Regions from separate parts of the Homo sapiens genome. Here regions 2, 3 and 4 are each linked to region 1. The links come from fine-mapping of genetic effects on gene expression. A gene starts in region 1. Each other region holds a variant in brackets. All regions are shown on one strand. Distances are from middle to middle.

Region 1 (7,340 bases):
CCCCAGCCTCATCTTCTCCCCTGTCCATCTGTCTGCTGTCCAACTTGTCAGCAGTCCCTTTTGGAGGGATGCAGGAGGGAAGAGCTCAGCAGCTGGACTCTCTCCTCCGCTTCCCCCTTAACTCTGGAAAGAGGCAGGTGTTGGGGTTTTCGTTGTAATCCCTTCCATATGGAGAGCACTTCAGAGTTTGCCAACTGCTTATCAACCCATCTCTGAATTTGTTCCTTACTAATTGTGAGGGTTATTGCTTTGTAATGTAGCAGGGCAGGGATATTAGCCCCATTTTACTGGTGTGGAAACTGAGGGGAGAGAGAAGAGAATCAGGGAAGTGTTCAGCTCAGGGTCAAACCCTCCTGTACTAATTCAGCCCTGTGGTTTCTGTCTCTGGCCTGGGGTTCTGGGCAAAGCAGCGGGGCGGTGGGGTGGGCAAATGCCAGCCCCTCTGAGCCCAGAGCTCAGGCCAGTCCCTTCCCAGAAGGCTCTCTTCCTTTCTCTCTTCATCCTGTCCCAGAAATCCCATGATCTTAGGGAGACCTTTATTCATTTGCCAAACACCTCCTGTCACCAGCCACATTCCATCCTGGTAGCTTCAGAGCACAGTAGGTCCTGGGAGAACTCACAGGTTGGTGGAGGGTCACATCCACAAAAAAGCCTGGCTTGAGAGTCAAGCCCAGCTGCTGGGGACAGAAGGTCTCAGCCTGGTGTTCCCCTCCAGTGTCCCTGGAATCCATGCTCTCCTAGAGAATGCCCCACCACCGCAGCGTCTCTGACCCGGCCTCCTCCCTGACTTCAATCTCTTTCCCAGCTTTTCTCCCACATCTCAGAAGCACCTAGGGATTTTTCCAGAGTGAACTGCAGAGGGTGGCCAGGAACTCACGCTGGTGCTCAGGACTCTGAGGCCAAATCCTGCCAGGCCTGGGCACACTCCACAACCCTCATGTGTAGAATGAGGACTGTGCTTGCCTCACGAAGTTGTCGTAAAGCCATTCGACCTTTCTTGTACCTTCTAGACACCCCACACCTTCCCCAAACATTCATCGTACTTGTGTGCCTTCCTGCCTTGAAACAGGCTCCTCTCCTAAAAACATATTCATCACTCAAGGCTCTGTTCATCACGTCAAATGTCACCGCTTCCCTGAAGCCTGAACTGACCCCAACCTCAACTATTAATAGCTGAAACTGCTCCCTTCTCTGGGTGTGCCCGCTTGGCCGGTCTATTGTCCTGGCTGTACAATCCCCCCCAGAACTATTTTCTTTTTTCTTGAGGAGTCTCGCTCTGTTGCCAGGCTGGAGTGCAGTGGCATGATCTCGGCTCACTGCAACTTCTGCCTCCTGGGTTCAAGCGATTCTCCTGCCTCAGCCTCCCGAGTAGCTGGGACTATAGGCGCGCACCACCATGCCCAGCTAATTTTTATATTTTTAGTAGAGACGGGGTTTCACCATATTAGCCAGGATGGTCTCGATCTGTTGACCTCGTGATCTGCCCGTCTCGGCCTCCCAAAGTGCTGCTTAGCACTGTTTTCTAGAACTCATCACAGTCTTCCTTGCAGCAAGATTAGTTTGTTTTCAGGCCTATCACCCACCTCCTCCCACCTGGGCTGTGATTCCATGAGAACATGCACCAGGTTGACACAGGGCCTGGAATAAAATCAGCACCAATTTGTAGAATAATAATTGCCGTCACTTACTGAGAACTGCCCAGGTATTTGGCACTGTGCTAAAGGCAGCGTAACTACCTGAGGAGACGGGGACCATCTCCCTCTGGGAAACCGCCTCAAAAATCAGAACGGATGGTGTCTTGGGCAAAGGAGAGAGTCAGGGTCCAAAGCTAGGCTGTCTGAACTCGGTGCCACCCAGCTCCTCTCTGGCAGAGCACCAAGCTCCCCCCACCCTACCCTAGGAGCTGGGAAGCCCAGTGGGTTACCCCACCACCCAGTGGCAGCCTCTGCCCTCCAGGTTGTGACATAACAATTGCACAACCCACGAGATATTTTTGAAAGAAACTGTCGGTTTCCTCTCCTGGGCACTGCTGGGGACTGTGGCCCCCATGCCATCCAGTGTCTTCAGCAACCTTGGGACTTTGGAAGCTAAATATAGTCAGGGCTCGGGGTGATAAGGAAATGAAAACGGCAAGACTGTAAAGTGACCCAGTTTTATTTTGGTTTTGGAGGCCAGACAGGGCATTGCTCCACGGGTTCGGGCTGTACAACCTTCCCCTCCTTGAGGTGGGAGGCCCAGCAACCACAGGGCCCAGGCAGCGGGGTGGGAGGCTCAGGAGATGGTGGCTCTGGGGACCCGATCCCGAGGAGAGAGGGGGCAGCAGGCAGAGGCCTGCAATGGCTCAGATTGGGGGAAGAGGGCGGCGAGGGGGAGAGGACACGATCCAAGAACCAGAGTCCGAAAGCTGAAGCTGGTCCGGTCTCTTTCACTTTACGGCCGAGGCTGGGGTCAGAGAAGTGAAGCCAAACTGTCCTCCCGCAGGAGGCAAGGCCTGGAGGGACGCCAGGGTCCCAGTCCGGTGCCGGGCCCTGCGCACACAGCCGCCGCCTCCACCCTCGCGGAGGGCGCGCGCGGGGCCCAGTCGCTGGGTGCAGGGTCCGGCGGGCAGTCGGGCCCTTTCTCCTCTCCGGCACGCCGGGCGGGCGCCGGCCGCCCTCAGCAGCTCACGGAGCCGGCGGGCGGCGCGGACCCCAAGTCCGAGAAGCAGTCGAACTCGCTCTGGCCCAGGAAGAGCTCGGGCAGCTCGCGCACGCGGTGCAGCCCGAGCTCCAGCTCCAGCGACGTCAGCGCCTCCTCGTCGATGAGTTCGGCGTCCATGCCGCCCAGGGCGTGCGCGGGCGGCGGCGGGGCTGCGGCGCTTGGCGCCGGCTGCGGGCCCGGGGGGCCTCCCGGAGCGTTGGGGGGCGCGGCCGCGCGGCCGGGGTACGGCGTCGCCACAGGCTGCAGGTGCGCGATGCCCGCGGCCGGCGGAGGCACGGCCGGAAAGGGCTGGAAGGAGGACGGCGGCCCGAAGGCCCCGTACGCCAGGGCCCCGGGTTGGCGGGGCGGCGGCGGCCCCAGCGGAGCCCCCCGCGGCCTCAGCCCACTGTCCAGGCCCGGGCCCGCGTACGGCGGCAGAGTCCGGAGCGCATGAGGGCCATGGGCGGCCGCGGCGGACGGCGGCCTCTGCACCAGGCGGTAGCCCTCGGCGAGCATCAGGTGGTCGGCCATGGCGGCAGGCCGGCTGCCTGCGGGGACAGCGCGCGGTGGTCAGCGCCGGCTCCCCCGGCCCGGGCCAGCGGCTGCTCTGCGGCGGGAGACCCGGGCACCGTGCGGTCCCTGCAGCTCGGCCGGGCGGAGCAAAACCAAACCCGACTGGTGCCCCGGCCCAGCCCACTACTGCGCACCTTGCGGCCGCAGCCTGGGGTCACAAAGGCCCGCAACCTGTAGTGCTCCGAAACCTCCGCGTCGCGTAGCTGGGCTCGGCGTATTCTTATACCCAGAGGCGGGGCTTCCCCGCCCTCGGACGCTCATTGGCTGGGCGAGACGCTTCTGGGCGGGCCGCGCACGCCTGCATCTAGGTCTTGGCCCCGCCCCTCCCACTGGAACCCCGCCCCTTGGGACTCCGGCCACGCCCCAGGCTCTGAGCACCGCCCTGGGGCGGGGTATTTGGCACTTTCGGAGGGATTCGGTCTGGCCCTCAGGGCTTCGGAATCGGACTTGGCTGGGGTAGAGCTTGAACTGACCAGAAGGTGGGGTGGGAGGGCCAGAGTTTTAGGCCCCCCAAGAGCTGCAGGATGTCAGGCCTACGCAACCTTTTAACTTTCCAGGTAGAGACCGAGGCTCAGTGGCGGAAGAGGCTTCCTGGAAATACACAGCAAAGCCTTGATCAAAGTGAGACTGCACAGCTACACAGGGCGCATGCACCTTAGCGGTGCAGGGTCCCCGCAGGAGGTCAGCTGTCCATTCCCATAACCCCCAGGAGAGCCTGTTGCTCCCCCTCTAGTTCCCACTGCACCTTGTCTGTTGAAGCATGTACTTAGTTGTTATTAATTTATGGGCACGTCTCCTGAAGGACTTGTTCATCTTCTTCTTCTCAGCACTTGGCCCAGAGCCTGGCCCAGAGCAGGCTTTTAGTAAAAGCTGAGTGAATGAACTAATGATGGAATGAATTGCAACTCTCAGCTGAGCCTCAGTTTCTTCATCTGTAAAAGGTAAAGAACAGCAGCACTGACCCTTTGTGAGGGGTAAGTGAGGGCATGTGTGCACAGTGCCTAGCACAGTGCCTGGTATGTGGTAGATGCTCAAAAGTGTCCCTTAGATGAAAGAAAGGCTATTTAAGTTCTTTTTTTTTTTTTTTTTGAGACGGAGTCTCGCTCTTTCGCCCAGGCTGGACTGCAGTGGCGCTGTCTTGGCTCACTGCAAGCTCCGCCTCCCGGGTTCACGCCATTCTCCTGCCTCAGTCTCCCGAGTAGCTGGGACTACAGGCGCCCGCTACCACGCCCGGCTAATTTTTTTTGTATTTTTAGTAGAGACGGGGTTTCACCGTGTTAGCCAGGATGGTCTCGATCTGCTGACCTCGTGATCCGCCCGCCTCGGCCTCCCAAAGTGCTGGAATTACAGGCGTGAGCCACCGCGCCCGGCCAAGGCTATTTAAGTTCTGTCCCAAAGGGCCTTCTCTTGATAACAGCAATAATAACTTGGACTTTTAAAGTGCTTTACATTCTACAAGTATTTTGTTGGGGGCAGGGCATGGATTATCAGCCCCATTTCAGTGATAAGGAGAAGCACACAAAGAGAAAGTGGCTGTCCTGAGGTCACAGGCAGCCAGAGTTAGCGTGTGAATGCCATGTGTTTTCCAAGTCCTTAGGGCAACTGGAGTCTTTCCTGTGGCCAGGAGACAGCCTCCCAGAACCTTACCCTCCACGCATTTGACACTCTCTCTCCCTTCTCTGACCTTCCCCCGACCTGTGGCATCCTTGGGACTTCCTGGAACTTGGGTTTATCCAGTTGATGTAGAGGGGAGAGCCCTAGAGTGAGAATTCAGGGGCCCAAGGTCTTTTCTTCCCTCTTTCTTCTTATTTTTTTAAATAGAGAAGGGAGCGGGGGGGAGGGGCGGCGTGGGGGAGTGAGGAGGGCCTCAGGCTTATCTCGAATCCCTGGCCTCAAGTGACCCTCTCACCTCAGGCTTCCAAAGTGCTAGGATTACAGGCATGAGCCACTGCGCCCAGCCAGAGGCCCAAGTTCTAATCATATCTCTGCCACCCACAGGTGTGTGACCTCCACCACCAACCAGCTGTGACTGTTGAGTGTTGAGCGGGGAGTATTACTTGATTCCCCAGGGCCTCAGCTTTCTGCTCTGTGAAAGGGAGACGGTGATCTTGCCTGGTCAGCCTGAGAGCTTGTGGGTAGTGATAAATGACCATGGGTGTGGTCACATTTTTGCAAAGTGTAAAAAGCTACACCCTGGAATTTATTCTCCTGAATCTTTCTCTACAGGTAAGGCTTCTCACAGAAATTCTTAAACCTGGCCATGCCTCACACTTATCTGGAGATGTGGGGGGTAAGGGGTGGGTGAGTGGGGGCTTTGATAAAGACGGAAAATCTGCCCAATTTGGGAGATGAAAGTGAGAGGATTGCTTGAGCCCAGGAGCTCAAGACCAGCCTGGGAAACATAGTGAGACCGTGTCTCTACAAAAAGTTAAATAATTAGTTGGGCATAGTGGCATGTATCTGTAGTCTGAGCTACCCAGGAGGCTCAGGTGGGAGGATTAGCTGAGCCCTGGAGGTGGAGGCTGCAGTGAGCCATGATGGCACCACTGCACTCCAGCCTGGGCGACAGAGATCTTGTCTCAAAAAAATCAACAAGCAGGCCAGGTGAGTGGCTCACGCTTGTAATCCCAGCACTTTGGGAGGCCGAGGTAAGTAGATCCCTTGAGCTCAGGAGTTTGAGACCCCTGTTTCTGAAAAAATAAAAAATTAACTTGGCATGGTGGTGTGCACTTGTAGTCCTTGCTACTTGGGAGGTTGAGGTGGGAGGATCACTTGAACCTGGGAAGTTGAGGCTACAGTGAGCTATGATCACACCACTGCACTCCAGCCCGGGTGATGTAGGGAGACCCTCTCTCAAAAAACAAAAAAAAACAAACAAAACAAACAAAAAATTATTCTGCCATCATTGGTCTTAGGTCACCAGCATTTGGGAGCCATTGCACCACCAGATGATTTTCCATTTAAAAAAAAATGTGTGTGTAACTAATGTTTAAGAAGTTCTTTAGGCCGGGCATGGTGGCTCACACCTGTAATCCCAGCACTTTGGGAGGCCAAGGTAGGCAGATCACCTGATATAGGAGTTTGAGACCAGCCTGGCCAACATGGTGAAACCCTGTCTCGACTAAAAATACAAAAATTAGCTGGGTGTGGTAGCACACGCCTGTAATCTCAGCTACTCAAGAGGCTGAGGCAGGAGAATTGCTTGAACCCAGGAGGCGGAGGTTGCAGTGAGCCTAGATAGCGCCACTGCACTCCAGCCCCAGCGACAGAGTGAGACTCCATCTCAAAAAAAAAAAAAAAAAAAGAGAAAAGACAAAAAAAAAAAAGGAAAAATAGAGTAGGAAGGAGGTTGGGGTGCAGGGGAGGAGGGGAGCAAGTTGTAGTATTAAGTGGGGTATCTGGGGCAAAAGCGGGCTGGGCGTGGTGGCTTACGCCTGTAATCCCAGCACTTTGGGAGGCTGAGGTGGGTAGGTCACTTGAGGTCAGGAATTTGATATCAGCCTGGCCAACATGGTGAAACCCCGTCTCTACAAAAAGTACAAAAATTAGCTGGGTGTGGTGGCACGCACCTGTAGTCCCAGCTACTCAGGAGGCTGAGGCAGGAGAATCGCCAGAACCCAGGAGGCAGAGGTTGCAGTGAGCCGAGATGGTGCCACTGCACTCCAGCCTGGGCAACAAAGCAAGACTCTATCTTTAAAAGAAGAAAAAAAAAAAAAGCCGTATCAGCAGAGAGAACGCTGGAGCAGCACTTCTAAAACTGTAGCAACAAGTCCTGAAGTGTCAGCCTTACCAGGGACCCCATTAGAAATGCACATTCTAGGACCGTACACCAGACTCAAATCAGTTTCTGAATCAGAAACTGGGCTGGAATTCAGCATCTGTGTTTTAATAAGCCCTGCGGGTGATTCTGATTAAGGACCTCTGAGTTAGGGGGAAGCCTTAGGCAAGGGTGAGCCGCAGCCCTAAGGGAGTGTGGACAGAGTGCAGTGGGGCTAGGAGGGTAGCAGGGAGGCCAACTGCATTGAGGCCTTGCAAGGACTTTGGCAGAGGAGTGACATGATCTGGCCTTTGTTCTGAAAGTGTTGCTA
Region 2 (7,340 bases), 68 kb after region 1:
CCCCCCCGGGTGCAATGTGCAATAAGAAGCCATGAGGTTTTAAGGAGGGCAGAGGGGAAGGTTTTCCAGGCAGGGAATCAGCAGCGTATATATCTGGAAGCCTTTTATTTCTGTCAGTGGTTTATTGATTATGCAATAAAAGGACCGCTGGGAAGAGAAAACTCATAACAAAGGCCCTAGTGGGCCCTGAAGCCACCAGCCCACGACTATCTCTGGGTGAAGAGCTGGAGTTTCGTCCTCCGAGACAGCTGTGGTTTCTGCTTTGCTCTGTGATCCTAGGCCCTCCAGGAGATCTCTCTGGAACTGATTCTTCAATTTCTAAGAGAACAACAAGAGTATTTAAGGGGATTAAAAACCACAGCAATATCTATGAACACTTTAAAACCCCACTCTGTGCAGGCCTGGTTTAACCCTGGCGATGTAATCATCAATCATTCCTATCCTTGACCTTCCCCTGCACTCACTCAATGAGCAGCTCCCAAAAGTTGGGTCTCCACTGTGCACCTGGGGTCCACACACTTCTCCCCACCAGCTTGGCCCACCACTTCATCGAGCCTCTGGATGACTGCTTCGTCTCCTAACTGGTCTTCCTTTTGTTATTTTTGTCCCCTTCCAATCTGTTCCTACGATACAGCCAATTTGATCTTTTAAAAAATCAGATCAAGCTGGGTGCGGTGGCTCACTCCCAAAGTGCTCCCAGCACTTTGGGAGATGGAGGCAGGGTTGTTTGAGCCCAGGAGTTCAAGACTGGCCTAGGTAACTTAGGGAGACCCCATCTCTACAAAATATTTAAAAATTAGCCAGGCATGGTGGCATGTGCCTGTAGTCCCAGCTACTCAGAAGGCTGAGGTGGGAGGACTGCTTGAGGCCGGGTGGTTGAGGCTTCAGTGAGCCATGATTGCATCACTGCACTCCAGCCTGGGCAATAGAGTAAGATGCTGTCTCAAAAAAAAAAAAAAAAAAAATCAGATTAAGTGGAGGAAGCCAGTCTGAAAAGGCTACATACTGTGTTATTCCAAATCTATGATATTTCGGAAAAGGCAAAAACTATGGAGACAGTATAACAATCAGTGGTTGTGGCCAGGTGCGGTGGCTCATACCTGTAATCCTAGCACTTTTGGAGGCTGAGGCAGGCAGATCACCTGAGGTCAGGAGTTCGAGACCAGCCTGGCCAACATAGTGAAACCTCATCTCTACCAAAAATACAAAAATTAGCCAAGCATGGTGGCACGTGTCTGTAATCCTAGCTACTTGAGAGGCTGAGGCACGACAATCGCTTGGACCCGGGAAGCAGAGGTTGCAGTGAGCTGAGATCGCACCACTGCACTTCAGCCTGGGCCACAGAGGAAGACTCAACTCAAAAAAAAAAAAAAAAAAAAAAAAAGTAGTTGCCAAGGCCTTGGGAGGAGGGAGGAATCAGTGGAAAACAGGGGGTTTTTAGGACAGTGTGACTAATCTGTATGCTACTATAATAGTAGACACAGGTCATACATTATTCAAAACTCATGTTCAATACAGAGCAAATTCTAATGTAAACTGTGGACTTTAGTTAATAATAATGTATTGGGTCATCAACTGTAACAAATGTACCCCTCTAATGGAGGATGCTAATACTAAGGGAAATTGTGATATGTGTGCATGTATGCACAGTAGAGGGTGAGAGGGAACTCTGGACTTTCCGCTCAATTTTTCTATAAACCTGAAACTACTCTAAAAATAAAGTCTATTAATTTTTTAAAAATCAGATTATGTCATTTTCCTGTTTAAAACCTTCCAACGGCTTCCTATTGCACTTTGAACAACATAATAAAACTCCTTCCTCTGGCTCATGAAGTCCCCATGATGTGGCCCCTGCCTTGCTGTCTCCCTTCCCCAACTAACACTCCACAATGGGCTTCTTTCTGTTTCTCAAATATGCCCAGTTTTTTCTCACCCCAGGGTCTTTGCACTTGCTGTTCCCTCTATCTCGATGCTCTTCCCTCTGATTTTCAGATGGCTGGTTCCCTGTTATCACTGAGGTCCTAGCTAAACATCCCTTCCTTGGAGGGGCCATCCTGACCACCCAATAAGAGCAGCCACCCAGTCACTCAATGCCATGCAACCCTGGATTCTACTGGAAGTAGTTGCCATGGGAACAGGGGTCTTTTCTACCTTCTTCCTTGCTGTATCCCCAGCTCCTAGAACAGAGTCTGACCTGCAAAGGTCCTCCAGAGATACTGGTTGAGTGAATGTGAGTGAATGAATGAAAGAATCTTCTGAAACTCATTCAGGGCCAGGCCTATGCTGGATCCCAGATAAGGCATGGTTTGTGACCTCTGGGATCTCACAATTTAATACACAGAAGTTTACATTGGACCTCCCGAACAAAGTAGCAGAGTGGTTAAGAGCACAGGCCATGGAGCCAGACTTTGTGGGTTCAAATCCTGGCTCTGGTTGGGCTCAGTGGCTCACGGCTATAATCCCAGCTCTTTGGGAGGCTGAGTTGGGAGGATTGCTTGAGCCTAGGAGTTTGAGACCAGCCTGGGCAACATAGTGAGACCCCCATCTCTACAAAAAATTAAAAAATTAGCCAGACATGGTGGCATGCGCCTGTGGTCCCAGCTACTCAGGAGGCTGAAATGGGAGGATCACTTGAGCCCAGGAAGTCGAGGCTGCAGTGAGCCAAGATGGCACCACTGCACTCCAGCCTGGGTGACAGAGCAAGACCCTGTCTCAAAACAACAACAACAACAAAAGACAACTAGCTCTGGTCTGTAACAGCTGTGTGTGTAAAACACCCAGGAAAGTTTCTAGAGCATATTACATGATCAAGAAATGTGAGTCATCATTGATGTCATGCAGGCCATATAAAGATACATGAGGCTGCACAACTCCAACACCAGAGTTCAGGGAATTTGGGAAATCCCTTTATTTATTCATTTGTTTCTGGATCACTCATTGCAAGCCTTTGGAAATGAGCATGAGAAGGGGCAGGTTATTTTAGGGAAAATTAAATTTTTTAAATGGAGAAACTAATATTGACTGTACTAAGAGGCTTGATATTCAAGATGTCATTTTATCCTCCCAACAAATATTTGGGGTAAATACTGTAGGGCTATTTCACAGATGAGAAAACTGAGACTTAGGGAGGTGAGATGATTTGCCCCATGTGACCCAGCTAGGAGGTAGCAGAACCAAGAATGACCCCAGGGCACAGTGAGGTCATAACATGCCCCCTTCTCTCTCACCATCCCTGCTCCAGCAGGCATGGGCTCCAGTCCCGAGCCCGGGCTTACATGGGTGGCAGTGACACTGGGTGGTCAGGAGCTGGGATGTTAGTGTAGACGGACCTGATTTCAAGTCTTACCCAGGGCAAGACTTTGGGCAAGGTTCCATACTGGAAAACTGGGTAGCTGGGCACAATGGCTCATACCTGTAATTCCAGCTACTTGGGAGGCTGGAGAGCAGGATGGCTTGAGGCCAGGAGTTTGAGACGCGCCTGGACAAGATAGCGAGGCCCCTCGTCTCTAAAATAAACAAACATATCAGAAAAATGGGGTTCATAACAATATCTGCTTCATAAGATGGACCTCTGTGAGCACAGCTCTCAGGACAGCACTTGGCAAAGGGTGGGGAGTTGGTAAATACTCATTGAACAGAGGCACCATGGAGTTGTTGTGAGAGGTGAGATGAGATGAGGCTGATCTGTCAGATACATGACAACCAGTTCCCAAAATTTCTGAAAGAAGGACCAGAGCCAGGATTCCACAACATGGCACCTGTGTGAACAGGAGTTCTGAAGAGGGCATTCAGAGCCGGGAGGAACAAAAGGGATCATGTTGTTGACACATGAGGTAATCACCTGGCAGGTTGGTGGCAGAGCTGGCTGGAACCATGGCCATCCGTCAGTTCTCAGGCAGTGCATTGCAGGGGAGAGAACCAAAGAAAGTGTTCTTCAAGGCCAAGGTCCCTTCTGCCAGCCCATGGGGCCTCCGATTCTGTTCTCATGGGGAGTTGGGGTGAGGATGCCTGTGTCATCCATGGGTGAATTCTCCAGCCTCTCTGGGGAGCTCTACATGCC[C/T]GGCTCCCTCAGGCCCCAGCTAGTTCCAGGGTTTAGGTCCTGGAGAGGGCCACAGTGCTCAGGGTCTCAGAAGCCAGCTCTTCTTCCCACACCCAGAGCTCCTTCCCCAGCCGGGCCCACACTTTTGCTCCCTGGCTGACCTAGATTCAGGAGCTGGCTCATTTCCACAAGTAGACAGATGCTGAGGCACAGTGAATTAACACACATATTTCAATAAGTGGTGGGCAGGTGGCCCCACAGCCTCTCAGAGCCTCAGTTTTCTCAAATTTTTTTTTGTTTTTTTTGAGACGGAGTCTCGGTCTGTTGCTGAGGCTGGAGTGTAGTGACGCAATCTCAGCTCACTGCAGCTTCCACCTCCCAGGTTCACTTCTCCGGCCTCAGCCTCCTGAGTAGCTGGGATTACAGGTCCCCACCACCACACCCGGCTAATTTTTGTAATTTTAGTAGAGGTGGGGTTTCACCATGTTGGCCAGGCTGGTCTCGAACTCCTGAGCTCCTGTGATCTGCCCACCTCGGCCTCCCAAAGTGTTGGGATTACAGGCATGAGCCATCACACCTGGCCAGTTTTCTCAACTTTTAAAGTAGGGACAATAGCATTTACCCTTGCAGAGTTGTGAAGATTAAATGCACTTATATACTTGAAGTGCTAGCACAGTGGCTGAACAGAGTAAGTCAACAATACACATGTATTATGCATTCTTGCATTGCTATAAAGAAGTACCCGAGACCGGGTAATTTACAAAGAAAAGAGGTTTAATTGGCTCACAGTTCTGTAAGTTGTACAGTAAGCATGATGCTGGCATTTGCTCGGCTTCTGGGGAGGCCTCAGGAAACTTACAATTATGGCGGAAGGCAAAGGGGGAGCAGGCATGTCACATGACCGAAGCAGGAGGAAGAGGTCAGGGGGAGATGCCACACACTTTAAAATGACCAGACCTCGGGAGAATTCACTCACTATTGAGAGGACAGCACCAAGGGAATGGTGCTAAACCATTCATGAGAAACCTACCCCCATGATCTAATCACCTCCCACCAGGCTCCACTTCCAAAACTGGGGATTACATTGAATGTGAGATTTGGGTGGGGACACAGATCCAAACTATATCAACACGTTAATCTCTTTCCTTCCTCACATCTATCCCCACACTGACTTTGGAGGCAGCTTGCTAGCTCTCAGCCGGGCTTACGTCACCACCCTGCTTAAAAAATCTTTTATTCTTCCAGTGCTCTCTAAGCTAATGTGAATATTCCCTGGCTTGGCATCCCAGACCCTCCTCACCCGCCCCAAGCTGTTTGACCCGCCAGCTTTTTTGCCACCCTTTTCTAACTAATGTGCTGTCAAGTTAATAAGCCTTTCTTGGAAATGTCACTCATATACCCCTGCCTTGTAGACCCAATGCACATTAACATATTAAGGGTTCTGAGGAACATTGCAGGAAAGACATTTGTTTAACCTTGTTCAGTGCAGAATTTCCCAAGTGAGTTTGACTGTAGAATCCCATTAATATCCCACAGGACATGCGTTTGTTTCCTGAACACCCTTTGCAATTTCCTGCCTGCATGCTCTGCACAGGTGGGTCTTTCTTTCCACAAAGCCCTTCCTCCCCAACGCCTGTTTACTCATCACAGGAGGCCCAGACTGGCCGACCCCTCCTCCAGTTGGTAGAGCTGACTCCCTCCCCTGGGCTCCCTCAGTCTGTGTCCTCTGCCCCACCCTTGCTCTTCCAGTCCTCCCAGTGAGCATTCCTGCAGGGCTGCCAGCCCTCACTCTCGCCTCCCCAGCATCTGGCCTCCCTTGCTCCCCTGCCCCCACCCGAGATCCATTTGAGTCCTATCTATCTGTTCCCAGGGGACCACCAAAAAACATTTCCTCTAAGAACCTTTTCTGTATTCCTTAGTCAGGTAAAAAATAAACAATAAATAAAAATCTGTTTTCCTCGTGATTTTAGTTAAAGGTCGCTAAGGGTAAGGTCCATATTTTTGGTTTCTCCACAGTGCTTTGCACTTAGTAAGTTCTCAGTAAATGCATGCTTAGACATACATTCCACCATATTTATTGAACACCTATCATGTGTCCTGTGCTGGATGTTGGGGGCATAATGGGAAACACAACAAACCTGGAAGGCAATAAGGGAAGTAGGAAAAGCTAGGATTCTGGGAGACACGGCTTGCTTCTGAATCCTGGTTCCACTACTTACCAGCTATGCATCCCTGAACAAGTTACTTGACCTCTTTGTGCTTCAGTCTCCTCACTCATGAAACAGGGAAAGAAAAAGTATTTGTCTTGAAGGGTTACTGTGAGGATTCAGTAAGATGATACATAAAAAGTGCTTAGAACAGACCCAAACACATAGGAAGAGCTATAGATGTGTTCAGCGATTGTTATTGTAATAGACAGCTTTGCCTCACAGAGTTTAGTTTAATAGGAAAGACAGACGTTGAATGACCAATTATACTAGTAACTATTTATTTATTTATTTATTTATTCGAGACAAGGTCTGGCTTTGTAGCCCAGGCTGGAGTGCAATGGTGCAATCATAGCTCGCTGCAGCTTCAATCTCCTGGGCTCAAGCCATTCTCCTGCCTCAGCCTCCCAAGTATCTGTGACTACAGGTTTGAGCCATCATGCCTGGCTAAGTTTTTCAAAATTTGGGTAGTGACTGAGTCTTACTGTGTTGCTCAGGCTGGTCTCGAACTCCTGGCTTCAAGTAATCCTCCTGCCAAGGCCTCCCCAAGTGCTAGGATTGCAGGCATCAGTCACTGTGCCTGGCCCTATTTATGCTTTCCTATTTATGTTTTTGATAAATGTTGAGAAGGAAAAGTACAGTGCACAATGGGAGAATAAAACAGATGGCCCAGGCTTGTCCCACGGTTCAAGGAAAGCTTCTTGGAGGATATGCCATTTAAACTAAGACTGAGGATAAGCATCAGTTGCCAGGCCAAGAGGGGATGGAAGGGCATTCCATGCAGAGGGAACAGAGTGTGCAAAGATACTGAGCCAGGAAATAATTTGGCATTTTGGAAGAACTCAGAGAAGGCCAGAGTGGCAAAAGGGCAGGGAATGAGAAGGCAGAGGTAGAAGATGAATTTGCAGAGGGGGGCAGACCATGCATGCCCTGGCAGGGCATGTAAGGATTGAGGGCTTTATCCCAGGAGCATTGGGAAGCCTTTGAAGGTTTCAATCAGAGCAGTGACCAGATCATATCTGCGTCTTAACAAACCATTTCAGAGACTGGTAGAGGATACCAGTAGGAGATTGATCCAGGTGAGAGAAGACAGG
Region 3 (7,340 bases), 37 kb after region 1:
CTCTTGTGTCTTCCAAAGGGCAGACATTTTAAATTTATTCATCTGTATACCAATACCACACTGTCTTGATTGCAGTGGCTTTCTCTAACTACTCCAAGACAAAGGCATAAGTGAAAAAGGAAAAAAAAATAGAGGAATGTTTTTTGAGTTCTATATGTGCAAGCATACTTGCCAAGAAAGAAATTTTATTTTTCTTAGAAAGTTGTGAGGTCACAGGTCCTCTTCCTAGAGCCCGCCCCCTCCCCACCACTAGGTGTTGTCTGATAGGGACTGAGGTGGACATGACTAACATCTCCCATCTTCTAGAGATAAAACTTTTCTTAATATGGCCTGAGATCACATTAGCTTTGTGATGGTTTCTGTTGACTCACATAAAGCTTGTGATCAACTAAAACTCCTTTGTTTTACAAGTGATCCTGTTAAGTCTGGTCAAGTCAAACCCTCTGCACTGATCAGTAAGCACTTTATATTACATAATTTTTGATTAGTGATTATGTGTCTAGCCTCATCTAGGTACTTTATATAATAAATCACTATTATGGCTACCACATACTGAGCACTTTTACTGTGTGCCAAAGTGCTAAACACTTTGCATACCACATTCAAACCTTGCAACAACCACTTAAAACAGGCTTTATTAACCCCACTTTATTGTTGAAGACATTGAGAGTTTTAGGAGTGATGCCGTTCCCCAAGAGTCTGGAGCATGAGTAGGTCTGGGGCAAGTCATCCCAGGCTGGAGTGATGACCCCTATGTTAGGGACTTTTAAATTATAAAACACCAATCAAATGTCAGGGGTGTCATTAGCATCATTACCATTATGCCGACTTGCCAAGTCTAATTTGGGAAACTTTGAAGGACGGGCTTCACTATATCAGTGATTGATTTGTTTACATGAAATAGAAGCCCACTCCAGCTAGTTTAAGCAAAAAATGTAATTCAATATAAGGCGTTAGAACTATCTCACAGATCTCAAGGGCAGGCAAGTCGCACAAGGACCTTACACTCAGGACTGGTGTTGGGGGAATGCCCACCTTTCCGTCCACTTCTCTCAAAACACCAATTTCCTTTCTGTCTTTCAGACACGTGTCCCAAGCAGCCCTCCTTGGCAAATCTACATTTCCTTACCCAACCAGGACCTGTGGCAAACAGTCTGGCCTCTCCTTGTCCTAATTCCAAAGTTCAGGAATCTGACTGGCCCAGCCTGGCCTCTAGAGTGGTTGCCTGTGAGTCAGGTACCTGCTTCTGCCCCAGTTAACTGGACAAGGAGGCTGGGCTGCATAGAAGAACCAAGGACCCAGGAGACTCCCTGGGCTTGTGGGCTGAGCAGGTACCTACTGAAGAAACCTGAAGAAAACTGAAGAAACCTACTTCAGTTTGGCCGGTCCTGGGGACTAGGAGCAGGCCAGGTGGGCCACGTTTCTGCCCAGTCATTTCCCAGTGCTGAGCTTCTTCAGGGGTAAAATGGCTTTCTCTGGCATTTTAGTGTCTTAGTGCCTCTAGAAACTCTGGAAGGTTCTTTTTATTTTTTACTTTATTACTTTTTTTTTTTTTTTTGAGACGGGGTCTTGCTCTGTGCAGCGGCGCCATCTCGGCTCACTGCAACCTCTGCTTCCCAGGTTCAAGCAATTCTCCCACCTCAGCCTCCTGAGTAGCTGGGATTACAGACGCCTGCCACCATGCCTGACTAATTTTTGTATTTTTAGTAGAAATGAGGTTTCGCCACGTTGGCCAGGCTGGTCTGTAACTCCTGACCTCAGGTGATCCGCCCGCCTGGGCCTCCCAAAGTGCTGAGATTACAGGTGTGAGCCACCACTCCTGGCCTCTTTTTAAATTATTTATTTATTTTATTTTTGGTAGAGACAAGGTCTCGCTATGTTGCCCAGGCTGGTCTCGAATTCCTGGGTTCAACCTATCCTCCCACCTCAGCTTCCCAAAGTGCTGGGATCACAGGCGTGAGCCACCATGCCTGGCCAGCTCTGAAAGGTTCTGACAGAGTCTAGTGACATATGTGTAGCTCATGCTTTGGGGGCTGTTTAAGGCTCCTGGGGACTTATCTACCTGTTTTTCTTAGTCCCTCGCCCTGGTTTACAGACCATTCCCAAGGGACTTCCTGTCTTGCCTTCCTGAGTCACTGCTGAGCTTTGAAAACACGATACATGTGCTGCTTTTGACCAGCCACCTCTTCACTGATTCCGTCTAGTCTCTGTGTTTTCCTTTGCTGGGTGTGACTCTTTGAATCAGACTTCCAGAATGTTAGGGCTGAAAGATCATTGCATCCGAATGCCCTCCACTGCTCACTTGTGGGACCTGAGGTGCAGAGAGGAGAGGATGAGTGAATGCAGATACATCCAAGGTGGCACAGAAGAGGGTTTTAGGTGATACATGGACAAACATTTTGTTATTGTAATAGCTATATTTAAACAGACTGTACTGTTGCTTAGGCTGAGGCTAAATTTATTTAAGTAAAATAGTCCAATAAAGAAAAACACAAAGCAAAAATATCTTACAGATTATAAAAAATGATGAAAGTAGTACAGGAATGAGTGACATTTGGGAAATACTACATTGATGAATGAGTGGGTGAATGGATGAATGAATGAATATATCAATGGATAAGGTACAACACTGGAATCTTTAGGATTCATTTTCTTACAGACATGGAATTTTTTCCCAGTCCTTGCACTTCAAGTCAGAGAATCATCATGATCCCACGAAACACCAGCTCAGCCCCCACAGGTGCTATACTTTTGACGAGATGGAACACAAATGGATTACTATGCAGTTCTCTTTTTTCCAGGTCAGCAAAGTCCAAACGCAGGGGCAACTGAGTGTACCTTTTAAGGTGAATGTCTTGAACTCCAGTTGCTCCGCCTCCTTTGGGTTGCTATGACCTTTTTCCTAATCTTAAAGAGAGGAAGAGCTTTAAGGGCCAGATGGGGTCTCTGGTTTCCCACGGGGCTCCCCAAAGGCAGCCCTTCTTGGCAAAACCCTGGGCCCATGCCAGGACTGAGTCATAGAAGGGAAAGTACCCTGGGTGGAAGTTGGACAGTGACCTTGGGCAAGCCCCTTCCCTCCTTCGCTGGGTCTTAGTGCTTCCTCTGAGAAGCAAGGAGGTTTAACTCCACCTCATTCGTGCCTTCATTCAATAAACACCAAATGCATTCCTGGCATTTGCTTGGTATGTGGGCAGATAAATAGAGTAATTGGATTCAGTGCCTGGAAGAACCCACAGTCAGGTTGGGTGGGGAGAAGGCACCTAAGGGCCTGTAATTACAGATATGTTTAAGAAGGGCTAGATGATGTGGACAGTCCCTGCCCACTCCGGGATCCCTAGAATGTGTCAGTGCAGGGGAAGGAATACATAAGTAACTTGGCAAGGTCACAGGGTTACACCCAGAAAAATGTTAGCCCTTGAAGTTAGGGACAGCCCTGGGCCTAGCTCCTGATCCTTCTCCATCCTACAGAAAACCTGCTGAACATGGATTTTGGAGTTGAGCCAATTCAGATTCCAACCCCTGAGCAGACACCAACTGGAACTGGAAGCGTCACTCTCCGGGCCTCAGTTTCCTCCTTTATCCAAGGGGGATAGGCCCTGGGATCCTAGGACATATGAGGGTTCCATAAGATAAGTATAATGTGTATCATGTCAAGAGCTCAGCACAGGGCCTGGCCCATTGTACGACTCCACCATCAAGGCAGGAGGTCGAATGGACATCTGTCCACTCTGGAAACACACCCACCTCTTGCCTCCCTTGGCTGGTCCCAGGGTTGGCTCTCTTTCTGGGGCCCTCTTACCCA[A/G]GAGGTCTTGCCTTAGTCCTCTCTTGACCCTTTGAATGCTCTCAGGGGCTTCCTCTTCTCAGGCCAGAGCCTCCCCATTGTACACCTCTGCTCTACTGATCTGGCTGTGAACTGGTATGTGCCAGAGACAGGGAGGAGGCTGGTAGGGCTGGGATTCCTTGGGGGAAAGCTGGCCAGAGCTGCAGGTTCCCCGACTCTCTTCCCAGCATTAAATTAGCACTGGAGCTGCCTGGTCTTGCCCAATAACTTGCCCAGGACAAGGTGACATCCTTCCTCCCTTCTTTGAGGCAGGACTGAGTGGCTTCCTAGAAGAAGACAGGCAGGACAAGCCAAGACGCACCCAAAGAATGGGGGAGGGAACCTGATTGGGGGAGAAGATGGGAGAGTCTGGAGCTTGGGGCAGCAGTGGATGGAACAGGTTTGCCCACATTCCTGGCAGGCCCCAGGATTCCAAAGCACTTTCTGTTTTTGTCACTGCCCCACCAATCACATACTCTGCCAGGGCCACAAGGCACCAGGCTTTTCAGAGCACCAAGCCCTTCCACCTTCACTTCTCATTCTTCACACCAAAAGATGGGTACTACTGGCTCTGTTTTACAGATGAAGAAATTGAGGCTCACAGAGGAAGAATCACATGCCCCAACTCGGAAGGGCTGATACAATTAACATTTAATGGCCAGGTGTGGTTGCTCATGCCTGTAATTCCAGCATTTTGGGAGGCCGAGGTGGGTGGATCACTTGAGCCCAGGAGTTCAAGACCAGCCTGGGCAACATGGTGAAACCTGACTCTACAAAAAATACAAAAATTAGCTGGGCGTGATGGCACGTGGCTGTAGTCCCAGCTACCCAGTAGGCTGAGGCAGAAGGATCACCTGGGCTCCAGTGGTCGAGGCTACAGTGCGCCATGATTGTACCACTGCACTGCAGCCTGAGAGACAGAATTAGATCCTATCAAAAAATAAAGTAAAATAGCCATTCACTAAGAACTACTATGAACCAGGTGGATTTCATACAAAAATCATCTCTGTTCCCAATATCCCAGCAAGGTGCCCATTTTACAGATGAGCAGACCAAAATGCAACCTGATGAAAGCACTTGCCCAAGGGCCCAGAACTAGCAAGCACAGAGCAAAGATGTGAACCTAGATTTGTTGGACTCCAGATCCTACCCCTTCTCAATGTTAAAGGCAAGGAAGCGGAGGCTCAGTAAGGTTCAAACCATGTCCAAGGTCATACCACCAGCAAGGCAAAGCCAGTTTTCAACCCAGGTCTGTCTAACCCTGCAACTTCTGTGTTTGCCGTATGCTACATTGTCTCAATAAACCTTTTTTTCATGGAGCAACTGGCTGATGCCAAATGACTACAACTGTATCTCAAACAGATAAAGATCCAGGACAGAAAGGGTCATGAACTATTATTACCATTATCATCAACGCTATTATTAATTGCTAACATAGCAGGGTCAGCATTTATACTGTATGATTCAGATTTGCAGAAATAAAACTTTCCTTCCACAACTGAACCCAACGCGATCACAACTCCTCTTCCCCTGATTTATTTCTGGGTTAAAATGTATTTTTTCATGACAACTAAATGCAGTGGGAGAGCGTGCATTTTCTTTTGCTTTAAAGGACATTTGGGGACAATTGGTAAAATCTGAAATAAGTCTACAGGTTAGATAATAGTCTTGTATAATGTTAATTCTCCAATTTTTAATTTTCGTGTTAAAAAAAAATTTTTTTTGAGACGGAGTTTTGCTCTTGTTGCCCAGGCTGGAGTGCAATGGTGCAACCTCGGCTCACTGCAACCTCCGTCTCCCAGGTTCAGGTGATTCTCCGGCCTCAGCCTCCCAAGCAGCTGGGATTACAGGCGCCCACCACCATGCCCAGCTAATTTTTGTGTTTTAGTAGAGACAGAGTTTCACCTCGTTGGTCAGGCTGGTCTCGAACTCCTGACCTCAGGTGATCCGCCTGCCTCAGCCTCCCAAAGTGCTGGGATTACAGGCGTGAGCTACCACGCCCGGCCTAAAAAATTTTTTTAAGATAGGGAGTCTCACTATGTTGGCCAGGCTGGTCTCCAGTTCCTGGCCTCAAGTGATCCTCCTGCCTCAGCCTCCCAAGGTGCTGGGATTATAGAGGTGTGAGCCAACATGCCCGGCCAATTCTCCAAGTTTGATAACTATACTGTGGATATGTAGGGTTACGTCCATGTTTTTAGGAAATACACACTAAAGTATTTAGGAACAAAAGGGCACTATGTGGACAACTTTTAAACATTTCAGAAAAAAATACACATGCACATGTGCACACAAACACAGAAGAATATAGCAGATATAGTAAAATGTTAACATTTAGGGAATTTGGATGAAGGGATTCAGAATTCTTTGCCTTACTCTTCCAACTTTTCTATAAATCTGAAATTATGTCAATACCAAAAAATTTAGACAAAAATATTTAGTCTTGTTTGGAAAAATCGTCAGCTCAGGATCTGAACTTGCTGTTAGGGTTGCTCGTCTCTCGGTGGTGCCTTCTCCTTCTGTCCAAGGATCACATCGGGTGGCAGAGGAGCCTTACCTAACACCTATGGGCTTGGGCCTAGGCTTCTGGGCTTGATGGCCCTATGGGCTGCCTTGCCCTCTGTGGTGTCTGGTGCCAGCTTCTCCCCATTGCTTCTCTGCTGGTGTCACTGGTCCTCTCTGGCTTTGGGCCTGGGCATACGTCACTCCTGAAGCCTCCAGCCACGGTGTCTGTTGCCAGAGCTGTGTGCTCTGAGCCCTCCTCATCCTGACCCCAAGCCTCTCACAGGTTCCTCAGGGCTTAGATGTGTCCTACTGGAAACTTCTGATGCTTACCCATGACCCACAAAGGCCTCAGGGGAGTCAGACGTTTGTATGAGTCAGTCTCATCAGGAACACAGAAAGCAGACTGGTTGCTTTAAGAGAGGGAATTGAATAGAAAGAATTGACTATTTCAACAGGAGTTTTGATGGAGACAAAGAAAAACAAAAAATTTTAAATGTTTTTAAAAGAACTGACTAAACATTAATTGACAGATGGAAAAGCCGGCGGCATGAGAGCGGAGGTAGTAACTGCAGGAAACAGACACCACCCCTAGGGAAGGGAGAACAAGGGAGGAAGTTAGGTGTCAGGACCTAGCAGCTGGGACCCAGACCCGGAGGAGGGCATGGCTGTAACTGGTGCTGGTGTCTCCGAGGGGCCACAGTGGGGCTGGTTCTGGGAAGGTGGGGAAAACCTAGAAACTAGAACCGCTTGCTGCTGGAACCAATTTCCTCTGCCAGGGTGAATGAAGGGCCATCGCTGAGGCGATGGTGACAGGATGGAACGGTATGCTGAGACCTTTCTTCCTGGGACCGCCTTGCACCCTCCAGGGTCCCCTATTGGCAGAGCCTATCCTGGAAACAGCTGACGGAACAGAAATAGGGTGGGCCCCAATGCCAGCCCCAGCGTCACCAGACGGCACATACAGGGATAGGTTTGGGGACAAGGGCTGATAGCTTCAGAACTGGTACGTGGAGGGAAT
Region 4 (7,340 bases), 29 kb after region 1:
ACTGCTGCCAGGTGGGCCAAGTCCCCACTGTTTCCTACCTGAATTACTGCAGCGGCCCCATTACTGATGGGCTCCCTGCCTCTGCCCCTTCGACCTATTCTTCACGCAGCAGCTGGTGTGACCTTAACATACAAAGCTAGATCAGGTTCCTCCTGCTCAAACCTTTTCCCAGCTCCCTAGAGTCAAAGTCCTGATAATAGCAGAGAGATCCCAACATGATCCAGTCCTTGTCTCCCCAGCCCCTTGTCAGACCTCTTCCCACATGCTTCCCCCCAACTCCAGCCACACTGACCCCCTTGCCAGCTTTCCCATTAACCTCAGAATTATTGCACTTGCCATTCCTTCTACCTGGAATGCCATCTTCCCAGATATCCGTGTCATTTTCTCCTTCAAATTTCTGTTCAAATGTCATCTTACTAGTGAGATCCTCCTTAACCACCCCATTAAAAATAACAACTTGGCTGGGTGCAATGGCTCACACCTGTAATGCCAGCACTTTGGGAGGCCGAGGTGGGAGGATTGCTTGAGGCTAGGAGTTTGAGACCAGCCTGAGAAACATAAGGAGACCCCCCCATCTATACGAAAAATTAAAAAATTAGCTGGGCATGGTGGTGCGTGCCTGTAGTCCCAGTGACTCTGGAGGCTGAGGCAGGAGGATCCCTTAAGCCCAGGAGGTTGACTCTGCAGTGATCCATGATCCTGCTGCTGCACTCCAGCCTAGCCAACAGAGCGAGAGCCTGTCTCAAAAACAAAACAAAACCTCACCTTCCTCCCCTACCCAGGCACCTTGTATCCCCTTCCCTGTTTATTGTTTATACTACATGTCACCATCTGAAACATTTTATAAATTATATTTTACTTTCTGGTTTATTATCTTTCTCTTCTCCTCTCCCCTTCCCTCCCCTCCCCTCACCCCACTAGAATGTCAGCTCCACAAGGACAGAGATTTTTCTTTATTTGCTTCACTGCCATATCCCCAGTGCCTAAAGTATTGTAGGTGCCCAGTAAATTCTTCTGAATGTTGACTATGGAATCTGTGTGCTACAGAAACTAAGGCACAAGGAGATTAAGTAAACTTGCACAAAGTCACACACTAGTAAGTGGTTGGATTTGGATAATGAACTCAGAATATAGGCAGTGACAGCAGAGAATGAGAGGAGGGAATGAAAGAAAACAAGGACCTGACAGATGGGCTCCAGGTCCATGGGCTGATGTTGCACCAAGGGGTGAGGTTGATGTTGTGAGACCTCCGGGGGTTGACATGAAGATTAAATGAGCTGAGACTTGAAAACACATTGTATATATAGGGAAAAGAGATTTTAAGAAAACTATTATTCCATGAATTTTGAATTCCCAGCCATGTTCCTGGCCTTCTCCACCCTTGCTGCTGAGGCATCTGTTGCTTCCAGTCGGGGGCAGATTCAGCAGCAGATGAGCAGCTCATCCTTAGCTTTGCCTTTCTAAATGGATTTTTTGAAAGAGTAGAGGAGACCTAACAGTGTCAGAATCCAGAATTTCAATGTAAAGGCCTACACAGTTGGGAGAGATACCCAAAACTTCCTTTTAAATGTCAAGACCTGGGCTGGGCGCAGTGGCTCACGCCTGTAATTCCAGCACTTTGGGAGGCTGAGGTAGGTGGATCACCTGAGGTCAGGAGTTGAGACCAGTCTTGCTAACATGGTGAAACCCCGTCTCTACTAAAAATACAAAAATTAGCTGGGCGTGGTGGCGTGCGCCTGTAGTCCCAGGTACTCGGGAGGCTGAGGCAGGAGAATCACTTGAACCCGGGAGGCAGAGGTTGCAGTGAGCCGAGATTGCATCACTGCATTCCAGCCTGGGCTACAGAGTGAGACTCTTGTCTCTAAAAATAAAAATAAAATCAATGTCAAGATCTGGAGTCTGGCCAAGGTGGGGCCTGGACTTTTTACTATGAGCCCTGGAGGGAGGGAAGGTATGAGACAAAGCAGTGATTCTCCAATTTGAGTGTGCATCAGAATCATCTGGAGGGCTTGTTTCAACAGGGATGGCTGCCTGGGCCCCACCTGCAGAGTTTCTGATTCAGTAGCTCCAGGGCGGGGCTGGAGAATTTGCATTTCTAACATCTTCCTAGGTGATATGAACCACATATATATATATATATATATATTTAAGAGGCAAGGTCTAGCTCTGTCACTCAGACTGGAGTGCAGTAGCCTGATCACAGCTCACTGCAACCTCAAATTCCCGGGCTCAAGCAAGCCTCTTGCTTCAGCCTCTGGAGTATCTAGGACTACAGGCATGTGCCACAACACCTGGCTAATTTTTTTTTTTTTTTGTAGAGGCGGGGTCTCGCTGTGTTGCCCAGGCTAGTCTCAAACTCCTAGGTTCAAGTGATCCCCCTGCCTCAGCCTCCCAAAATGCTGGGATTGCAGGCATGAGCCACCGAGCCTAGCTCTAATACCAACCACACTTTGAATAGCCCTGATGTAAGGGTTGTTCTCAGTTCCAGGGGCAGCCTCGCAGAGCCCATGCCCTCCAGGATGGAGGTGTGAAGAGGGAACCCCAGGAGGTGGTGGGGGTAGGTGTATGGAAATGCTCAGGAAGACGGTAGGCAAGAAGAAGGTTGGGGTCAGAGGAGAGGGTGTGAAGACTGTGGCCAGGAACATAGTTGTGGGCAGCAGAGGCCAGGGGACCTGCCCAGAGGACAGGTGGGACGTGTGCCTCAGCCACACTGCAGAAGGCAGACACTTGAAAGAGGAAGCAGTACTGGGTCAGAGGCCCCTTCCCCAACCATGAGACTATCCAAGCCCCCAACTCCATTCCCCTTCAGATGTCACCCTGAAGAAGGGACAGATGGGGCTGAGAAGTGGTGAAAGATTGAGTATTTTCTCCCAAAGAGCCTGAGGGGACTTGGGATGGCACAATTTAGAATGTCTTGCAACAACATCATGAATTAATCCCTCTGCTCCTACCAGGGTATGAAGAAGTGGCCCCAAAGTTGCAGTGCAATGGTTAAGAGCAAACATTTCCTGGATGCGCAATCCTAGGCAGGAGACACCCTCTCTGAACTTCAGTCCTCAAATCTAAATCGAGGATGAAATTATCATCCATCTCATCAGATTGAGAGGTTTAAA[A/G]GAGACCATGCATATAGTGGAGTGTTGAGCTAGAGCCTGGCAGAGGGCAAATATTCAATCAATGGTATTTATGATGATAGGTTTTAAAGGCTGGGCATGGTGGCTCATGCCTGTTATCCCAGCACTTTGGGAGGCTGAGGTGGGTGGATCACTTGAGGTCAGGAGTTCAAGATCAGCCCGGCCAACATGGTGAAACCCCGTCTCTCCTAAAAATACACACACACACACACACACACACACACACACACACACACACACACATATTAGCCCAGCATGGTGGCGGGTGCCTGTAATCCCAGGTACTTGAGAGGCTGAGGCAGGAGAATCACTTGAACCTGGGAGGCTGAGATTGCAGTGAGCTGAGATTGTGCCACTGTACTCCAGCCTGGACAACAGAGTGAGACTCTGTCTCAAAAAAAAAAAAAAAAAAAAAATTCTTCCCTGCCTTCAGTTTGTTCTCTCTTCCTCCCTTCCTCAAATACTTATACTTACTGGGACCTACTGGCCCCTGACATGGATTTTGCCTCCTTGGAACTCACATCAGGAAATCAGACCAGTCAACAGGCACTTAGTAGCTGACTGTGGGCTGGTGCTGTGTTGGGGTAAGCTCGGGGCACTGGGACTGGGGACGCTGAGAAGTCTTTCTGGAGGATGAGATGCATTGCTTATTTAGGGGGCTTTATTGAAGCTGATAATAAATTAAAAGTATATATATATTTAAAGAATAATAACACTTGGGGCTGGGCATGGTGGCTCACACCTGTAATCCCAGCACCTTGGGAGGCCAAGGCAGGAGGATGGCTTGCACCCAGGTGTTCAAGACCAGCCTGGGCAACATAGTGAGGCCTCGTCTCTATTTTACTTAAAAAAGAATCACTCCTGGGAAGGAAAGAGTGAAAATTATAAACTTTCTCCCTCAGTCAAGGTTCAGAAATATAATTATAGTGCGCAACACTTTATAATGGGAGGCAGGAGAGCATGGTTGACTTTGGAATCAGACGAGCTGGAATCCAGATTCTGAGGTTTAACAAATGGTCTGACCCTGGACTACTTAGCTTCTCTGAGCCTCGGTTTTCCTTATCTGTAAAATGAGACTAAAGGTAGCTACTTGACATGTGGGTTTGTGGTAAGATTTAAAGGACGCAGATTATGTACAGCACCTAGCATATATTATTTGCTAACTAATTCTGAGTCCAGGGCTGGAGAGTGGATCTGGGCTTTTTTCCTCTCCACCCTGTGTCCTGTCACTTTCTGTTTCTCCCTGGTTTTCTGGATCATAATGAACTGATTGATGACCCACCTGTCTTCTCCACCAACCTGGGTGCTCCTTGAGAACAGAGTCTGGTTCAGGGTCTGTTTAGTTTATCCCCCGCTTTTTTTTTTTGCTCAGAGACAGTCTTGCTCTGTTGCCCAGGCTGAAGTGCAGTGGTATGATCATAGCTTACTGTAACCTTGAACTCCTGGGCTCATGTGATCCTCCCACCTCAGCCTCCCAAAGCACTGGGATTATAGGTGTAAGATAACATGCCCTGTCGCTAGATATCTTCTTTGGTGAAGTATCTGTTCAAGTATTTTGCCCCTATTTGCATTACTTATTTTCTAATTATTGCATTTGGAAGTTCTTTTTATATTCTGGACACAAGACTTTTATCAAATATATTGTATTAGCCGATTTTTACACTGCTATAAAGAACTACCCGAGACTGGGTAATTTATAAAGAAAAGAGGTTGACCAGGCGTGGTGGCTCATGCCTGTAATCCCAGCACTTTGGGAGGCTGAAGCGGGCAGATCACGAGGTCAGGAGTTTGAGACCAGCCTGGCCAAAATGGTGAAACCCCATCTCTACTAAAAATACAAAAATTAGCCAGGCGTGGTGGCAGGTGCCTGTATTCCCAGCTACTCAGGGGGCTGAGGCAGGAGACTCACTTGAACCTGGGAGGCAGAGGTTGCAGTAAGCCAAGACCATGCCATTGCACTCCAGCCTGGGTGACAGAGTGAGACTCCATCAACAACAACAACAACAACAACAAAAAAAAAAAAGAATAAGAAGAAGAAGAAAAAGAAAAAGAAAAGAAAAAAAAGAGGTTTAATTGACTCACAGTTTCACATGGCTGGGGAGGCCTCAGGAAACTTAACAATCATGGCAGAAAGTAAAGGAGAAGCAAGGGCACATTTAACATGGTGGCAAGAGAGAGAGTGAGGTAGGGAACTGCCACACTTTAAAACCATCAGATCTCAGGGGAACTAACTCACTGTCATGAAAACAGTAAGGGAGAAACCTGCCCCCATGATCCAATCATCTCCCACCAGGCCCCTTCTTTAACACATGGGAATTATAATTCCAGATGGGATTTGGGTGGGCACACAGAGCCAAATAAGATCATTTGGCCCATGGCTCCTCCAAAATCTCATGTCCTTTCACATTTCAAAACTAATTATGCCTTCCCAACAGTCCCCAGAAGTCTTAAATCATTGCAACATTAACTCAAAAGTCTAAGTCTAATGTCTCATCAGAGACAAGGCAAGTCCCTTCTGCCTATGAGCCTGTAAAATCAATGGTGGTACAGGCATTGGTTAAATGTTCCTGTTCCAAATGGGAGAAACTGACCAAAACAAAAGGGCCACAGGCCCCATGCAAGTCCAAAACCCAACAGGGCAGCCATTAAATCTTAAAGCTCTAAAATAATCTCCTTTGACTCCATGTGTCACATCAAGGGCACGCTGATGCAAGAAGTGGGTTTCCAAGGCCTTGGGCAGCTCCACCCCTGTGGCTCTACAGGGTATAGCCTCCACAACTGCTTTTAAAGGCTGGCATTGAGGACCTGAGGCTTTTTCAGGTGCATGGTGCAAGCTGTCAGTGTATCTACCACTCTTGGGTCTGGAAGACAATGGCCTTCTTCTCACAGCTCCAGTAGGCAGTGCCCTGGTGGGGACTCTGTGTTGGGGCTCCAATCCCACATTTCCCCTCCATACTGCCCTAGCAGAGGTTCTCCATGAGGGCTTTGCCCCTGCAGCAGACTTCTGCCTGGACATCCAAATGTTTCCACACCTCCTCTGAAATCTAGGCAAAGTCTCCTAAACTCCTGCCTTCTGCACACCTGCAGGCACAACACCACATGGAAGTCACCAAGGCTTGGAGGTTGCACCCTCTGAAGCCATGGTCTTAGCTATACCTTGGCCCCTTTTAGCCACAGCTGGATCTCCAGTGGCTGGGATGCAGGGTGCCATGTCCCAAGGCTGCATAGAGCAGCAGGGGCCCTGAACCTGGCTCATGAAGCCATTTTTCTATTCTAGACCTCTGGGCCTGTGGTGGGAGGGACTGAGGAAGATCTCTGAAATGCCCTGGAGACATTTTCCCTACTGTCTTGGTGAGTAACATTTGGCTCCTTGTTACTTATGCAAATTTATCCAGCCAGCTTGAATTTCTCCCCAGGAAATGGGTTTTTCTTTTCTACTGCTTGGTCAGGCTGCAGATTTCCCAAACTTTTGCTCTGCTTCCCTTTTAAACATAAGTTCCAATTTCAGACCATCTATTTGTGACTGCATATGACTGTATGTTGTTAGAAGCACCCAAGCCACCTCTTGAATGCTTTGCTGCTTAGAAATTTCTTCCACTAGATATCCTAAATCATTTATCTCAAGTTCAAAGTTCCATGTATCTCTAGGGCAGGGGTAAAATGCCACCAGTGTCTTTGCTAAAGCATAGCAAGAGTGACCTTTGCTCCAGTTCCCAATAAGTTCCTCATCTCTATGTGAGACCACTTCAGCCTGGACTTCGTTGTCCATATCACTATCAGCATTTTTGTCAAAACCATTCAACAAGTCTCTAGGAAGTTCCAAACTTTCCCACATCTTCCTGTCTTCTTCTGAGCCCTCCAAACTGTTCCAACCTCTGCCTATTACCCAGTTCCAAAGTCACTTCCATATTTTCAGGAATTTTTACAGCAGTACCCCACTCCTGGTACCAATTTTCTGTGTTAGTCCGTTTTCACATTGCTATACAGAACTACCTGAGACTGGGTAATTTATAAAGAAAAGAGGTTTAATTGACTCACAATTTCACATGACTGGGGAGGCCTCATGAAACTTACAATAATGGCAGAAGGTGAAGGAGAAGCAAGGCACATCTTACATGGTGACAGGAGAGAGACAGAGAGAGAGCAAGGGAAGGAAGAACCACACTTTAAAACCATCAGATCTTATGAGAACTGACTATCACAAGAACA

Alleles and levels. Positions count from the first base shown, and alleles are read on the strand shown. Sizes are in standard deviations (SD) of each study's normalised expression. Not every link is listed here.
For the expression in subcutaneous fat of the gene that starts at base 3,446 in region 1, allele T in region 2 goes with a higher level than allele C (moderate effect, 0.41 SD a copy in FUSION).

The links. PIP is the estimated chance that this variant, and not a neighbour inherited with it, causes the effect.
Region 2: its variant is the best candidate, but not a certain one, in a credible set for the expression of CITED4 in subcutaneous fat (FUSION, PIP 0.69).
Region 3: its variant is the best candidate, but not a certain one, in a credible set for the expression of CITED4 in esophagus mucosa (GTEx, PIP 0.52).
Region 4: its variant is the best candidate, but not a certain one, in a credible set for the expression of CITED4 in whole blood (INTERVAL, PIP 0.70).

The regions. Positions count from the first base shown.
Region 1 is chr1:40,858,918-40,866,257 of GRCh38, forward strand. CITED4 (Cbp/p300 interacting transactivator with Glu/Asp rich carboxy-terminal domain 4) reads right to left here and starts at 3,446. Exons shown (of 1, transcript NM_133467.3): 1 at 2,137-3,446. The coding sequence starts at 3,210. The coding sequence ends at 2,656. It overlaps LOC124904157 (a long non-coding RNA gene), which reads left to right and starts at 3,467. Exons shown (of 3, transcript XR_007066025.1): 1 at 3,467-4,193; 2 at 5,251-5,478. RefSeq lists silencers at 3,233-3,312, 3,473-3,672 and enhancers at 3,773-3,832, 6,256-6,805, 6,806-7,340.
Region 2 is chr1:40,926,542-40,933,881 of GRCh38, forward strand. No RefSeq gene overlaps it. Among named protein-coding and RNA genes, the nearest start is that of CTPS1, 49 kb to the right of the region's middle. The variant C/T (reference allele first, on the strand shown) is at 4,061.
Region 3 is chr1:40,895,501-40,902,840 of GRCh38, forward strand. No RefSeq gene overlaps it. Among named protein-coding and RNA genes, the nearest start is that of CITED4, 37 kb to the left of the region's middle. RefSeq lists an enhancer at 2,548-3,747 and a silencer at 7,017-7,311. The variant A/G (reference allele first, on the strand shown) is at 3,803.
Region 4 is chr1:40,887,995-40,895,334 of GRCh38, forward strand. No RefSeq gene overlaps it. Among named protein-coding and RNA genes, the nearest start is that of CITED4, 29 kb to the left of the region's middle. The variant A/G (reference allele first, on the strand shown) is at 3,114.